Homo sapiens: one gene and its partners. The protein of the gene in region 3 purifies or fractionates together with the protein of the main gene of each other region. This does not show direct contact. Each region holds a gene or a part of one and is shown on either strand. Other genes may lie near its edges.

Region 1 (3,656 bases), on a different chromosome or scaffold from region 3:
CATCTAGGCTGGAGTGCAATGGCACCATCTTGGCTCGCTGTAGCCTCTGCCTCCCAGGTTCAAGTGATTCTCATGCCTCAGCCTCCCGAGAAGCTGGGATTACAGGCACACGCCACCACACCCAGCTAATCTTTGTATTTTTAGTAGAGATGGGGTTTCACCATGTTGGCCAGGCTGGTCTTGAACTCCTGACCTAGTGATCCACCTGCCTTGGCCTCCCAAAGTGCTGGGATTACAGGCATGAGCCACCACACCTGGCAACATTTTATATACAATAAAAATAATAGATTTTTAACACCACATACAATTTGTGACCATTTTGAGCCAATGATTTGTTCATTTTTTGGAGATTAGGAGTAAAAGATTGCAGGTGGGGAGGTTAGGAAAGCTAATTCTCAATACTTTAATAACATACTTCTATATTTGTACCCATGTCATGCTATTGTGATTGCACATTTCTCTTTGGGAAGAGTAGTCTGGACTTTTGAAATCTTGGTGCTTTGATTCTAATATGCTTTCTCAGTATAATATCAAACCAAACACAAAGCCATCTTATGAGCAAAAGATAAGGAAAGAAAACACTGAAGAACTACAAGATGAAGTCTACACTGATGTCAGCAAATATTTTTAATATAGAGACAGCTGCATAACACCTTGATTTATCTGAGGTTACCCGCACCTGTACTTATACTACCTGGCTAAAATGTTCCATTGAAAAGTAAGCTAAGAACCTGCTCTTTTGAAATTCTGTAAAACAGAATTCAATAGACATTAAATAAGAAAACAGTCTCAGACTTTAGTCATTTTTGAGAAGGAATTCCAAGAAAGTGGGAGATGCTTGGTTTGTGTCTCTAATATCTGAAGAAAACAGATCTTTTGGCCCTTTAAACTAGTGACAAATTAAAACTTCGGTAGAGTAGTCTACAGAAACAGGGGCAATGATGCAATAAATGTTAAGCGATCATTTTGGTCAGGTGAGAAATTACTTTCATGAATGATCCCCTGAAGGCAGGAAGGACAGCTGCATATTTTTTTGTGAGCACCTGCAGTTACTAGTCTCAGGGGTGACTTGGTCATGATCAGAAATGATTATGGTTAATCATTGATGCCTCTTTCCACAATTGAAGTACATTTTAGAGTTTTTATATCCCAGGTAAATGTGTCTTTGAATAACTAAAGTTGTTACATGGTTTCAATAAATTACAAACCCCACACTGTTTTAGTTTCTAGGGCTTCTCAACCTCAGCATTGTTGACATTTTGGGCTAGATAATTCTTTGTTGTGGGGGTTGTCCTGTGCATTGTAGAATGTCTAGCAGCATCCCTAGCCTTTACCCACCGGATGCCAGTAACATTCCCCAGCTGTGACAACTGAAAAAGGCACATTTTCTGCCATAGGGGCAGAAAATCACCCCAAGTTGAGAGCCACTGAGTTAGCCAAAGAGAAGTCAGGTGAGAGACATTGTAATAAAATAATTTACATTGCTTCCCACCAACCTATAACCACAACGGTAACTCCTTAACATTTTTTGAACACTCACTTTGTCCTGGAAACTGTGCTAAGTGCTTCTCATAGATGTAATCTTCTCATCAGTTCCACAAAGCAGTTACTATTATTATTTCCATTTCACAAATGAGGAAGTTTAGCTTAATTAAGTGACCTGTCTAAACTCACACAGCATGTAAGAAGTGGTAGAGCTGATATTCAAACACAGGCTGTGCCTCCAACTCCAGCATACTTAACCACCTGTGAGAGGTTCATTTCTGTATGATCACACTCCTCACAGTCCCACCAGCTAAATCTGAATGGTCTGGGATCTAACGCTTCTTTATTAACTCTACTTAGTATACTCTTTTCCTCTAGGATTGGAAGGGGTGTGTGTGTGTGTGTGTGTGTGTTTTGTATCAGAAGAAACCAAAACCTTGATACGGAAACTACCCCGAAGGCACTGTGAACTATGTATATTATTGAAAGAATAGAACTGAGGTTATGCAACTAAATGACAGAATGGCCTGAGAGAGAAAAACAAGTGTGGTCACCTTAGCAGAGTGTTTTGAAGAGCAGAGAACTGGAACATAATCATGAGACTTGGGCAAACTTTCTCACTCTGGCCCATAGTTCAGAAATAATTGTACTCCCCTACATTTCAGTAGGTTTTAAGTGTTTCCAAGGTAGTTGCTCAAACATGCTGTCAACCCTTTGGAAGGGATGTCCTGGAGAAACACTTAATAAACCATTCTCCACTTCCAGGGCTGGAAATCAAAATGTGTGCACACACCCCTCCCGCAGGCAAATGTGAAGCTGGTGTTCCTTGAGCTTTTGGAGTTTCAAAATTCAGCTGGAGTTCTTGGACTATGCGAAGACATTCTTTTAATTCTGTGGTAGAGCAATCTTCTTAACTGCTGCTCTACCAATTATTACCTCTGTGCTCAGTCCAGCAATCATACTCTATGAAATCCTTTAAAAACCTAAAAATACTTTATTAGCAATTAGGATTTTTGCAGTAGTAGTGGTAATTGTAATAGAAAGACATCCAAGATAATAACAATTCCTGGCCAGGCACAGTGGCTCATGCCTATAATCCCAGCACTTTGGGAGGCTGAGGCAGGCGGATCATGAGGTCAGGAGATCAAGACTATCCTGGCCAACATGGTGAAACCCCATCTCTACTAAAAATACAAAAATTAGCTGGGTGTGGTGGCGCATGCCTGTAGTCCCAGCTACTCGGGAGACTGAGGCAGGAGAATCACTTGAACCTGGGAGGCAGAGGTTGCAGTAAGCCGAGATCGTGCCACTGCACTTCAGCCTGGTGACAGAGTGAGACTCCGTCTCAAAATAAATAAATAAAAATAAAAAAAAATAATAATTCCTTACATTTGCACAACCCTCCATGGTTTGTAGAATTTTCCCCTGCTACCTCTTTTAATTATTACATCCCCGTCTGAGGACAGGTTGGCACTACTGCTGCACTGAGCAAGTAAGAAAACTATATGATCAAAGAGATCATGTAGCTGTCCAGATCTCCTAATTCTCATGATAGTTGGCCCACTGTTTCCCCATCATACTACAATCACTTCACACTTTTAAATCATAGGTAACTGTTTTTAAAAGGACTTTTGGTTTGGTGCCCCCATGAATGAACCTGCTCCACTGAATCTGCTAAACAAATCTGGCATGTGGCTTAGGGTGTGGAGAACCTGGTGAGTACAGTCGAGGCTATATCCAGTGGAAAATGTAAAGATATACAAAAGTGGAGTTTTTTTTTTTTTTTTTTTGAGATGGAGTCCTGCTCTTGTTGCCCAGGCTGGAGTGCAATGGCATGATCTTGGCTCACTGCAACCTCTGCCTCCCAGGTTCAAGTGATTTTCCTGCCTCACCCTCCCAAGTAGCTGGGATTACAAGCACCTGCCACCACGCCTGGCTAATTTTTGTATTTTTAGTAGAGACGGGGTTTCGCCATGTTGGCCAGGCTGGTCTCGAACTCCCGACCTCAGGTGATCCACTCGCCTTGGCCTCCCAAAGTGTTGGGATTACAGGCGTGAGCCACTGTGCCCAGCCTAAAAGTGGAGATTTTTATCATGAGCCCACCACTGTCTCCAACAATTATCAACTTGTATGTGGCTAGTCTTGTTTCTTTTATATCCTCATCACTCTTA
Region 2 (3,557 bases), on a different chromosome or scaffold from region 3:
CTCCACCCCTGGATATTAGGAACAATATCAAAGGGGGGGTGTACAACCCCTGCAATATTTGGGTAATATCATCCTTGTCCCCCCTGAATATTAGGAACAATATCACAGAGAGTTTAAACACCCCTTGTATATTGGGAGAGATATTCTCCCCTCCCCAACTGGGTATTAGGAACAATATCAAGGGGGGGTGTACACCTTCTGTGATATTGGGAGTAATATCATCTTTCTTCACTCTGGACATTATGAACAATATCACAGGGGGGTGTACACTGGCAAGTAATATCATCCTCTCCCTTCATGGGTATTAGGTACAATACCACAAGGCGTCTAGGGACACCTGAACAATCCCCAAGGGAAAGGGGGTTCAGGCCACACTTGGGATTGCCCAGGTCAAGGTGCCCAGGAACCATGGCCTCCAGGGGAAACCAAGAGTTTCAGATGAATTCAGTGCTTGAGGGCAGAACCAATGAGAAAATCTAGTCACATTTCTACAGCGCATCACCGTTAAAAAAAGGATTCTCTGTTATGCTAGGCAAGGAGGGATGATTATTTATTAGCTTCTACAGATTAGACAATGGGGTGGGGGTGGGCTCAAGGTGAGATGATTTTTTGGGTCCAAGTCTACTCAAGACAGGCATCCCAGTCTTCGGTCTCCAAATCCACCTCCTGTCTGTCCCCCCACACTGCTCCTCAGGCCTTGTGGATCCATTGACTGTGATTTCTGTGGTTCAGCTCCCACATCAGGCAGGAAGGGCAGCTACTGGGTCTGAGATCCCACATTGCCTCCAACCCTTGCTTCCTAGCTGGCCTCCCAGGGCACCACGAGGGGCTGGGCCAGGCTGCTGTGCTGCACGTGGCAGGAGTAGGGGGCTGTGTCCTGCGGGGGCACTGCCACCACCACCCAGGACTGGTAAGTGCCATTTCCATTGTGAAGAACATCTCCCCGTAACTCAGGCTCCTGCACCTCGCCGGCCCGAGTCCAGTGCACATCAATTTTCCCTGGGTAGAAGTCGTAGGCCAGGCACTTCAGTTTCTTCTTTTCTCCTGGGGCCTGGTGGCTGGTGACCACCACAGAGGGAGGATCTGTGGAGGGATAGAGTGTGACACTGCAGGCTTGAGGTGGACTTCTCCCGGCCCAGGTCTCTTCCTACCCCCACCCCTGGATGTCAGCGATCAGCAGAGCTCGAAGCTCTGTACCTGCCCACCCCCAGCCCCGGGAGACTTTCCAGAATATCAGGGAAGGCTGACGCTTTCCCTCTTGCCCAATCCCCACCTCACCCATGTATTGACTCTGACGGCAATAAGTTGTGAATGCTCCGTGTGCTTCTCCATGTTTTCCCACATCTCAGTGGGCTTTGGAGTTCTGTCCCCCAGTCTCAGTCCAGCTGCTTGGTTCAGCCCATGCCTCTATCCAGCAACCACTTCCCTGCAGCACTGCACAATCCTGAGTCTCACTACGTCTCCAATCCAAGTCTCAGCTTGCAGCCATCAATTCCGCTCACACTGGCTTGCTCTTGTCCTTCTGGGGCTGACATTTTACACGCCTCCCTTCTCTCCACCACCCAGATGGGAGGCATCATTGTAGAGATAAAAAACGATGGGATTTGGAATCTGAAATCTGGAATTTGAGTCCCAGCTCTGCCTCTTACAGACAGTGTTACCCTCACCTCCCTAACCTCAAGCTCCTTGTCTGTTAATTGGAGATGATTTGGGGACACTCATCAAGAAAGAATGGCCTTCCTGGCCCATTCTGCCTGAAATTTTGATGATGTTCTTTTTGGACCACAAATTATATTATCCCAGGGAAGGAATAAATCCTAAAAGATGAAAGCTGGGGGTCTGAGGGACATCCAGGAACAGATGAGACCGGACTAAGATGTTGCCTGAGCTCCTAGCCTGAGATCGTCTTTTATTCTGGGCTCAGTACTGGGGAGCAGGAAGCAGTGAGTACCTTGCCGGTCCAGGATATTTTTGCTGTATTTCAGGTATTTCCGCAGAGTCGCAGGGCACTCCTCCTCCAGGTAAGCCTTGGCCCGCTGCACGTAGACTGGTTCTGCCTCCCACTTCTGCTTGGTTATCTGGGCTGCTGGGTCGAAGGGGACCCAGGCTGGGATTTCTTTGTTGAATTCAATGTAGTCCTTTCCATCATAGTAATATTTCCAGAATGCTCCGCTGCTTCTGTTATTCTCGATCTCACAACCAAACCTTCCCTGCAATACGTGAGACCCTGAAAACTCCCCCGACCCCACAGAGAGACAGTCAGCCTGGTGAGAAATTTATCAAAATAACTCTTAGTCTTGCACATTGGGCAACCCAAAAGAAATAAAGGTTTTTGCAATTCAAGCATGCAATCCCTTTATCAAGACAAATAGGTTATTACTCCAATATATACAACAGACAGAGAGGGGCTAACTCAGTTTGGTTTGGCATTTCAGGTTTGTCTCAGATGAGATATGTTCCTCCTTAAGAGAGCTACAGCCTGGGCGCTGTGGCTCATGCCTGTAATCCCAGCACTTTGAGAAGCTGAAGCGAGTGGATCGCTTGAGCCCAGGGGTTCCAGACCAGCCAGGGTGATATGGCGAAATCCCACCACTACAAAAAATATAAAAATTAGCGCAGCATGGTGGTGCATGCCTGTAGCCCCAGCTACTCAGGAGGCTGAGGTGGGAGGATCACTTCAGCCTGGGAAGTCAAGGCTGCAATGAGCCAAAATCACACTACTGCATTTCAGCCTGGGTGACAGAGTGAGACCCTATCTCAAAAAAAAAAAAAAAAAAAAAAAAAAAAGCACCAGGCCCAGTGGCTCACACTTGTAATCCCAGCACTTTGAGAGGCTGAGGAGGATGGATCACCTTAGGTCATGAGTTCGAGACCAGCCTGGCCAATATGGTGAAACCCCATCTCTACCAAAAATATAAAATTAGGCTGGACGCAGTGGCTCATGCCTGTAATCCCAGCAGTTAGGGAGGCTGAGGCCAAAGGATCACCTGAGGTCAGGAGTTTGAGACCAGCCTGGCCAACATGGTAAGACCTCATCTCTACTAAAAATACAAAAATTTGCTGGGTGTGCTGGCACATGCCTGTAATCCCAGCTACTCATGAGGCTGAGGCAGGAGAATCGCTTGAACCTGGGGGACAGAAGTTGTAGTGAGCCGAGATGGAGCCATTGTACATCAGCCTGAAAGACAGAGCAAGACTCAGTCTTAAAAAAAAAAAAAAAATTAACCAGGAGTAGTGACACATGCCTGTAGCCTGTAGTCCCAGTTATCGGGAGGCTGAGGCAGGAGAATCCCTTGAACCCAGGAGGCAAAGTTTGCAGTGAGCTGAGATTGCATCACTGCACTCCAGCTTGGGTGACAAGAGCAAAACTCCATCTCAAAAAAAAAAAAGCTACAGAATATGAATATATTTCTATCTCTTCTATAGCATCTCTTCTAAGGACAATTATTTGTTTGAATTTATGCTGAGTCCTGAGGAAGCTGTCACAACTACACCAAAGTGTACTTCCAAATTGGATAGAAATTATTTGTGATTTCATATGAGTAAAGGAAGGCTCT
Region 3 (3,656 bases):
TACCCACTGGCCATATCCCAAAAAAGCCAAACTGAAAAGTAGCACCTCTACTTCCTCATGTGCAGAAACAACTTGTCAGTATTTGGATCTTCAAGAAAAGAAACTCCCTAAAAATATCGGCTCCAGCCATATGGAATATTCAGATATGGCCAGACTGAAGAACATATGATGCATGAAACAGAAACAGAAAGAAGAGAAAGGCATGTGAACACACTCTATAATTTCTTTGAGCATGTGGTTGAGGACTGAGCCCTGAGTCTAGCTGGCCAGAAGCCAAGCTCTATCACTTACTAGTTGAATGACCTTAGGCAGGATACTTTAGTTAATGTCTCCGAGGGTCAGTTTACTCATCTTCAGAATAAATAATAATACTTACCTCACAGGTATTGTTAAATGAAGTTATGAATATTGGGAATTTTCACAGTGCCTGAGATATAGTAAATGTTAATGAATACTAACCAATGTCGTATTATTACGGTATTCATATTATCAGGCTTCAAAGTAAGTTATCAGTTATTAAAATTAAGATTAAAACACTATATTTATATGCTTTTTTCTATATACTGTACTTATTTTGCAAATGATGGCAGCTAGAATCTGAATAATATGACTCTGAGATTCATAAGATGATGATAAATTATCTTCTGGCTTTAGTTATGTGGGAGAGCAATGTGGCTGTATAATACTTATACAATATCAAAGGTGAAATGAAACAGCCAAATTTAAACAGTGTGTCCCACCCCTGGTATAAAACAGGGTATCAAAAGTAGTAGTTTATTCTGCAATTGTTCTATTCTTACAGGAGAACTTAGCCTGAGTCCACTGGTTTCATCATCTTTCATAGACCTTGCCTGCTGAGCTGCCCAATGATTGACATCTGTTCTATGGCCCATGGAAGTATGGCTGGCTTAATGGGCATGCAAACCTATGCAACCACTTAAAAGGGTCCCATACATTATGTTGCTGGCCCGGCCTGGCATAAAAGGAATATCTACCTTGCACGTGGGAATTAGGTCAGTATATCTTTATTACCTTGGCATCATTATTGGTATCTTTGCTTAAATAAAATAAAGAACTTTAATAGTTATTTTTGGTAGACAGGAACATAAAAAGTTCTACAGTCAGTAAATAAAGGAACAGGAAGCAATGTTATCAAAGCCTTATTGGAAAATAAGAATCAAAACTGAGTTATTTCCTATTATTAGTCTATTAAGCCCAATATTGAGTCAATCACAATAAGTATCTAGATACAATTTTTATAATGTCCTAACATGCATTCATTATATTATCAAAGTTTGCAAGTTCTTAATGTTCTATAAATGTTTTTCCTCAATTTATTTGAGGCTATTTCAATTTTATACTTACTATGAAAATAGCATATATATATTTTAAATATATATATATATATATATATATATATATATATATGTTTAAAAAATGACATAGCTTGCCTGGTGTGTGGTCACACATGCTGTATAGCTAATTGAAGATCATGATGAAGTGTCCACATGAAGACCAATAATGGAAATAGTATGGAAAAAACAACTCCTTATATCTCCCAAAATTGTTATTTTAAGAACATCTTATATTGAGATACTACCTTTCTCTGGGAAACATATACGTCTAAATAGTTTCTTCTATGTTCCTACAGAAGTAAAATTAGTTCTATTAGGTCAGATTACTCTGGGGGAGTCATAAATAAATATACTAATTTAAATAGTAGAGATAATTCAACTCTATTATTCTGTTATTTTTAATATTATCAAAACATTCATACATTAAATATGAAGTCATATTATGTTAGAATAATGATCATCCTTTGTAATTAAAAAGAAATAAAGTACAAAATTCATACAAATGGGCTATAATTTAACAGCAGACTCATATGAGAAAAACACAGCCATTACTTTTTGTAAGAATGAAGAGATATTCATATTTAGAAAAGATTATTCAATATTACTTATATGACAACCATATTCATAAAACACTTCCTTCATACAGAGGTACTATTATGCAATTTATATGCACCACACAATTCCTCTTTCTTCCCAAATACATGCTTCTTCCTTGGTGTTTAGAACATCTGTTAATGGTACCACTATTCTGTCATTTCCCAAATTCAAAACATCGGGAAAGTCTAGATCTCTCTCTTCTCCAAGTGTCATGCATTAAGGCTGTGAACAGATCGTGGATTTTTTTACAGTGAAGCAGTCTTCGGCATATCTCTACTAAGCACCTCAGCAAATCACCTACTGCAATCTCATCACTTAAAAGGAAGAAACTAAGGCCTAGAGAGGTGAACTTTTTACCTAGTGCTATTAACTAACACAGAAACTTACTAATACATCTAGGACCAGAATCAAGATTTGATGTTCCTCAAATCATTTTTCTTGCCACTCTCCCTCTGTTTCTGTTGATGGGAACTTTCCAACATTTCTCACATCAGCCTTAGAGCTTCCTCTATGGCTCTTGCCAATATTCATTCAGTAACATCCCTAATATCACCTCTGCAATCACACTACACACTATTGCTAGCTTCATGCTTCTGAGTTGCAGCTCTTATCACAACCAATCCACTGATACCAATTTTCAGACACCCTACTCTTTACAAAATCATGTCTAAGTACTTAGCTTGGCATTGATGGCCTTCTATGATTTACCCAAATCTATTTCCTGAACATTCATTGTCAGATGATCATTCAACAGGTATTTACTGAGTTCCTATTGCATATCAGATATGGTAAAATGCCAAAATAAGTAAATCTGGTCTATTAAAGATCTCCTTGCCTAATAGCTTTGTTTAATTACTTGTGCAAAGCAAATTGTTCCATAGGAGCAAATTTAATTATTTTATAGAGGTCTAGTCAGAAAAATTTTAAAAACACATAGCCAAATATACACTAGAAATATTTGTTTTGTATTGATGTCTGAAATACTGTAAGATAGATTCAGATTTAAATAATGTCAGTGATCTTCACAACTTGACTATCTATCCAAGTTCAAGTATGTAGTTTTATGTTTAATGGTCTTGCTCAACTGTACAGATCTATTAAATATCATTTAAGTAAAAAGAGAGATTAAAAGTTACTTTTCAGTAACAGCTTACCAGGATATATTATGTTGTCCGTGTTTCTTTGAGTCCGGCCTATCAGGACTGTGGTAAGATTTACCGTTGGTTTCTTAAGTGCGTTAATTTTCTTTGGCAATGATTTTACTTGCTTCTGAGACTTGACAACATTTGCCAGACTACCAGGCAACGATCGATCTATACAACAAGTTAAATTAGATAGGGCAGCTTGAGTTTTTATTTGAATTATTGGTTCCACAAATTCTGTTAGACCTTTCTGAAGAAGTTGAATATCTGGCAGGGAATGTTTTATCCACTTAGGGATGGTAGCATTCAGTTCTGACACACTTGTAGAAGCATTGTGACACATTGTTAAAACTTCGTGGAGAGTTTTGTTAAGCGAAAAGAAGTTAATTGAAAGATGGATAGATTTTGCTTCCAACGCCTTAAATCTGGAATTTAATACTTGCAGTTGAAGAGCCTGATCTCTCTCATTTGTAACTACACTGCCTTTTTTAACTGAAATATAATAAGGTATGAGCGTCTGGGTAACTTTAGACTCAATGTCTTGCAACCGAGTCTCAAAATT

What was found.
Region 1: the proteins of MMRN1 (region 3) and ACP3 purify together in Homo sapiens (affinity purification with mass spectrometry; 3 studies listed by BioGRID and IntAct, with this or other methods). This does not show direct contact.
Region 2: the proteins of MMRN1 (region 3) and AZGP1 purify together in Homo sapiens (affinity purification with mass spectrometry; one large-scale study listed by BioGRID and IntAct). This does not show direct contact.

The regions. Positions count from the first base shown.
Region 1 is NC_000003.12:132,323,838-132,327,493, reverse strand, and holds part of ACP3 (prostatic acid phosphatase isoform PAP precursor), read right to left. Parts: intron 1-3,656. UniProt on the Homo sapiens protein: A non-specific tyrosine phosphatase that dephosphorylates a diverse number of substrates under acidic conditions (pH 4-6) including alkyl, aryl, and acyl orthophosphate monoesters and phosphorylated proteins.
Region 2 is NC_000007.14:99,966,204-99,969,760, forward strand, and holds the end of AZGP1 (zinc-alpha-2-glycoprotein precursor), read right to left. Parts: intron 2,228-3,557; coding exon 1,952-2,227; intron 1,084-1,951; coding exon 800-1,083; 3' UTR 527-799; downstream 1-526. UniProt on the Homo sapiens protein: Stimulates lipid degradation in adipocytes and causes the extensive fat losses associated with some advanced cancers. May bind polyunsaturated fatty acids.
Region 3 is NC_000004.12:89,936,249-89,939,904, reverse strand, and holds part of MMRN1 (multimerin-1 isoform 1 precursor), read right to left. Parts: coding exon 3,107-3,656; intron 1-3,106. UniProt on the Homo sapiens protein: Carrier protein for platelet (but not plasma) factor V/Va. Plays a role in the storage and stabilization of factor V in platelets. Upon release following platelet activation, may limit platelet and plasma factor Va-dependent thrombin generation.